Regions from separate parts of the Homo sapiens genome. Here region 2 is linked to region 1. Evidence: fine-mapped expression QTL. A gene starts in region 1. The other region holds a variant in brackets. All regions are shown on one strand. Distances are from middle to middle.

What was found. PIP is the estimated chance that this variant, and not a neighbour inherited with it, causes the effect.
Region 2: its variant is fine-mapped to the expression of MED12L in neutrophils (BLUEPRINT, PIP 0.95).

The regions. Positions count from the first base shown.
Region 1 is chr3:151,083,906-151,086,815 of GRCh38, forward strand. MED12L (mediator complex subunit 12L) reads left to right here and starts at 1,759. Exons shown (of 45, transcript NM_001393769.1): 1 at 1,759-2,031; 2 at 2,893-2,910. RefSeq lists silencers at 1,411-1,780, 2,217-2,511.
Region 2 is chr3:150,988,732-150,991,641 of GRCh38, forward strand. The region is part of intron 1 of CLRN1-AS1 (CLRN1 antisense RNA 1); the gene reads left to right. Among named protein-coding and RNA genes, the nearest start is that of CLRN1, 17 kb to the left of the region's middle. The variant A/G (reference allele first, on the strand shown) is at 1,286.

The sequences.
Region 1 (2,910 bases):
CAGGTCCCATACAGTGTTTCTGAGTTGCAACAATGAGTAAAACTGTCCTTACTAGTGTATGTCAGTGAGTTGGGAATGGGGGAGAAAGATGAAACAAAAATAGTAACTTTAATTTTTATAGCTGAGAGATGAATATTTGAGGGCTCCTTATATGATTTCTTCAGCTTTTTGTATGTTTAATAATTTCCCTAATAAAGTTAGATAATAAAAAAAACCCTTTCGGCCGGGCGCGGTGGCTCACGCCTGTAATCCCAGCACTTTGGGAGGCCGAGGTGGGCGGATTGCGAGGTCAGGAGATCGAGACCATCCTAGCTAACACTGTGAAACCCCGTCTCTACTAAAAAAAAGAAATACAAAAAAAATTAGCCGGGCGTGGTGGCGGGCGCCTGTAGCCCCAGCTACGCGGGAGGCTGAGGCAGGAGAATGGCGTGAACCCAGGAGGCGGAGCTTGCAGTGAGCCGAGATCTCGCCACTGCACTCCAGCCTGGGCGACAGAGCGAGGCTCTGTCTCAAAAAACAACCAACCAACCAAACAAAGAAAACAACAACAACAAAAAACTGTCCTTTCTTTCAAACAAGGGAGCTACATTTGATAGATGCCTGTATCACAAGGGCAAGTCCAGCCATGAAATTAATCCCAGGATATTAGTGGAAGAGAAGACCCTGGGGCAAGATGGGGAAGGTGGTCAGGAAATGCCCTCCAGTGAAGTTAGGTAAATGCTCTCTAGAAGTAATTGTTCAGATTAAGGAAGCCAAAAGCTAAACACCTGACTCAGCCTCAAACTGGGTTTGGAGGTGCTCACAGGTCAGGATCAGGAGTGAGGAACTAGCCTCTACCACATTACCTTCACTTTATTTATCTCCTTCTTCCCCCTTTGCTTAAATGTCAACGAACATCAAAGTTGATGTTCAGATTCAACCAGCATTTCCAGAGCACCTACTATGTATCAAAGGCTTCCGGTTAGAATCTGCCTTTACCACCTTACAGAGAGGGAAGGCCGAGAATGCCTCAAGCCGTGGAGAACGTGAGTCCATCAGGCAAGGACAGGTTAGGAACCCAGTCCCTCCAAGTCCAAGTCAGGGAAAACAGGTCAGAAACTTAGAATCAGTCGTGGGTTCAAATTCCGACTCGTTTCGTGGCTTTCGGCAAGTGAGTGGTCCTCTCTGAGCTGGCTCAATTTCTCCATCCATAAAAAGGGTACAGTAAGACCGTGGAAGGTTGTAAGGACCAGAGATTCTGACTATCAAGATCCTGGCACGTAGCGAAGGCTCCATAAATGGCAGCCATCATTCTTGGCCAAGTGCGGGCGCATTCTCCCGGGCACGCCTCCCGCGGGGTCCCTCAGGACAGGCCGAGCCCGCCTCCGCGGCTCCGGTCTCGCAGAGCTCGCGCCAGGTGGCCCAGCATCTTGGTGCCCGCGCCCCGAAGCGAGGAGCGAGGGCGGGTTGGATGACCAAGGTCTGCCCTGGAGGATCACCCCCCCCGCCCCTTCCACGCTCCCGGCGCAGGTGAGGTTTTCGGCCCAGGCCACGGGGACCGCGACCTCTGGGGAGGTCGAGGCGGAGGGTGCAGCGGGGGGCTTGGAGCAGGGCTCCAGAGGGCGCTCCCTCCCTCGCCCAGGTTCACCCCAGGGCCAGCCTCGGCGCCGGGGCCCGCGGGCTGCGCGCTCTGCGGCTGCGAAAACCCGGAGAGGCGGATTGGAGCGCGCTCACCGCGCTCTCAGCCAACTCCTCCGCGGTCCGGCCGCCGAGCTGGGCATGCTCAGTGCGGACGCCGCGCCGCCGTCCGCCAACTCGGAAGCTCGCGCTCCCGGGCCGTGGGGGCGAGAACGCCGGCGGCGAGCCGGCGTCGCTCGCCGCCCCCAGACAGTGGCAAACTTCGCGGCGTTCCCGGAGCTCGTCCGGGCGAGGCAGATACCGCACAAATAAAATCAAATCCAAGTCCCCCATCCCAACCCGAATGATGGAGGCTGCGGCGGCCGGAGTGACCCCGCCGCCGCCAGCCCCAGCCCGCTAGCCGCGGACCAACAGGTAAAGTGTTGGGGGTTGGGGGCGGAAGGGAAGAGGAGCTGGGGCCGTGGGGAGGCGGCGGGCTGGAGGAGCCCGAGACGCCTGCGGGCTGGCTGCCCCCGTCGGCGCTCACAGCCATCGCTCCTCACCCCCTTCCCCAGCCCCTGGAGGGACTGTAAAGGGTTAAGTCGGCCCCACGCCACCGTGAGCACGGCCCCCTCCAGCCGCCGCGACCGCCAGCAGCGCGCCTCGGCGCCTGCCCGGAGCCGCCGAGGGGACCGTAGCTGCGGATGCGCCACTGGAACCTGGCGGGCGTCTAGGAGGCACCGGCCGCTTCCCACCGGCCGCATCCCTGCGTCTCGCGCCCCCTCCAGACCTGCCTCTGCCTGCACTGGCCCGGTCCGTGTCCAGGTGGCGGGGTCTGCGGGGCGCGTGGCGGCGGGGGAAGGGTCCCTGCCGGGGAAGAGAGGCGGGGGCGGTCCGCTCCACAGCTTCTTCCCGGGAGGGGAGGGCCACCCTCGCCTTGGGCGAGCACTTCAGCCACCAGCCTAGGCGCCAAGAAAAGTTTTTTTTTTTTTTTTTCCAGTGCCCCACCCCCACCCCCATCCTGCGCCCAGCTGGGGTGGGTTTGGGTCCATTGGTGAAAAAAGTCACACGTTCCCATCAGCTGCTCCTCCCCCTGGAGACAAGGTAGGGGGGAGCAGAGGAGGCAGGCGCCGCGGAGGACCCTGGCCGACCTCTAGTCCCTCCGCCGCCGCCACCGGAGCGGTGCGTCCCGGGGCTCGAGCGCAGCCGAGTACCCGCCGAAGGCTGTCCCCATCAGTGCGTGTCTGCTGCCGGGCAGCGGCAGCATCCAACCTGCTTTATTCCTCCTGCCTGCAGCGCCACAGCGAGCGAGCG
Region 2 (2,910 bases), 95 kb before region 1:
GGGACTAGAGGTGTGCACCAGCACACCTGGCTAAGTTTTGTATTTTTAGTAGAGATGGGGTTTCACCATGTTGACCAGGCTGGTCTCGAACTCCTGGCCTCAAGTGATCTGCCTGCCTCGACCTCCCAAAGTGCTGGGATTACAGGCATGAGGCACTGTGCCCAGAGACCATCAGATCTTTTTCAGGGGCTGTTTTGTTTATTTATTTCTTCCTTTGAATGGACTATATTTTCCTGTTTCTTTGTGTATGCCTTATAATTTTTTTTATCAAAAACCAGACATTTAAATCTAATAATGCAGTAACTCTGGAAATCATATTCTTTCCCTTTCCCAGGTTATACTATTTTCATTTTTTTTTATTTTTTTAAAAATTGTTTTAGGTAGGTTGTTTCTGCGCCAAGGATAAGCCTGAGGTGTAAAATTAAGGTCTTCTCAGGTCTTTTCTGAGCCTGTCTTTCTCTGGGCATGAACATTTGTTCTAATTGCTAATGTATATGCAGTTGCTTTTGAATGTCCTAGTCTTCAATGTCTGCCTCCCAAAAGGGAAAAAAGAGAAAACTAAGGATGTGGAGAGTGGTGCCAGCCATTTACTCCTTTGGAAGTCACTTCAGCTGGACAGGGAGGGGCTTGCCACAGTGGGAGAGATGCAGCAACAATGGCCAACTATGTGTTTGTCTGCGCCTCTGTGATCAGAAGCTGCAATCAGTGATGGCTGGGCACAGTGGCTCATGCCTGTAATCTGAGTACTTTGGGAAGCTGAGATGGGAGGATCCGTTGGGGCCAGTAGTTCAAGACCAGCCTAGGCAACATAGTGAGACCTTGTCTCTAAAAGAATTTTAAAAATTAGCTGGGTGTGTTGGTACATGCTTGTAGTCCTAGCTACTTGGGAGGCTGAAGTGGGAGAATTTCCTGAGCCCAGAGGTTCCAGGCTGCAGTGAGTTATGATCGCACAACTGTGCTCCAGCCTGGGTGATGGAGCAAGACCTGGTTTAAAAAAAAAAAAAAAATCCACACACAGGTTATTCAAAACAAAACAAAACAAACAAAAAACAGAAGAAGAAGCTGCAATCAGTGAGCAGAGCACAAATGCACAAATCCCCAGCATTTGGAGGTCAGGGTCCCCTGGCTCCCACAAACTGTGTAAAAGCTGCTTCGGGAACAAGTACATACCTGCATACCATGGGGCTGGGGGTGAAGGAAGGATAGCTGCTACTGCAGTAAGAGCTGAAATTGACCACAGTTAACCACAATTTACTAAGCCTTCCCTAGACATTGCAAATTTTCA[A/G]CAGACTCCAGAGTTCCTCAATAGCTACATCCGACAGATTTTGCCAGTGAAATTGTTTCTAGGTGGGCAGACAAATTCCTGTTGCTTCCTACTTTGTCATCTTCCCAGAATGCCCTCCTTGCACAAAAGTTTTTGAAACCACTGAATCTTTTGTCACCTCCAAACAACACCCTAAATAAGCAGATCTTTAGTCTCCAATAATTCTAAAAGTCAGGAGTAGTCATATGTTTAAAATGAGTGATAATAATGTGCTGTGAGGATGAAATGGAATAATATAAATACCTTGAAATAGTGCTTAGCATATAATAAATGCTTAATAAATGTTAGCTATTCTTTATTATAATAATTTTTATTTAAATTATAATTACTTTCTGAACTGGGGAGATGCCTCACCAGAAACAGTTAAAATATCAAGGATGTTTTAAGAAAACTGCTGGACCAAGAATTAACACTTGCTACATATTGGTTCCTATTTTTATACCAAATTTTAAAACATTAAACATAAGACTTAAATTTTTGACAATTTCTTGCTCAATATCCTAGTATGCTTAGTTACCATTCTAATATATCTTTTCACACAGGTTCTCTCTGAAATACTTAACTTTAGAAAGATTTATAGTTCTTAAGTGGGGCTATTTTATTCCATTTTAGTCCTTGGTAGTAACTTCCAACCAATGAATTCCCTGTAGGAATACTCACAATTTAGTGTATGCAATATGATTAATTTTAGCTCCAGAAAAAAGGCAGACATTTTTTCTTTGAAAATTTGAGCGGCTTTAATGTATTGTGAGTATGCATGTAGGATCTCATTCAACTGCAGTTTCTTATCTCATCAAAGTTATCTCCTCACATCCTTATGACATTTGCCTTATCTTTAATTTGTAGGAGTAATATTTTCCAGGTCAGAGGAGAGAGTAAATTTTCCATAGCTAATTTTCCAACTAAAAGCTGATGTACATACAGACACAATTCTGTTGGCATTTCCAGGGCATTGAATACCAAAGAAAATATATTTTATGATTATCTTGGGGGCATGAATGTACCTATATTATAGAAGAATTGGTAATAAAGAAGATTTATCAATTTAATTACTGGTGTGTTACACTTGGGCACCATGTAGCATTTTTTTGGTCCTACAAATAACTGTACTGAACAGGGCTGAATCTATGATGTAGCCCACAATGAACTCTCAGAGGTGTGGTTCCTGGAAGAAGCCTCATTGCTGAAACTATCCTCTTGCCCAAGGCTTTGCCCAACATTGTGATACACATGGTCAAGTGCAAACATCTTCTTTAGGAATTTCAAAGATTTGGCCGGATGTCTTTGCAGTAGAATTACTCTTTGAGTTTGAGAAACTAATTGAGTTCAGTATAGGCATGGAAAGACACTTGGAGGAATATGCCAAAATATTAATAGTGGCTATGCCTTGGGGAATGGCGTTGAATGTGAAGGAGAAAAACCAGAAGGGAACTTTCGCTTATTATTTCATCTGCTTCTGTATTATTGAACTGTTTATAACCTAAATGTATTAATTGCAGAAAAAAGGCAGCAGCCTTTACCAGCCACCTGGTCTCCCAGCTCAGAAACCAGGGAAGTAGGCACACCATTTCTTTTTCCTTCACTCC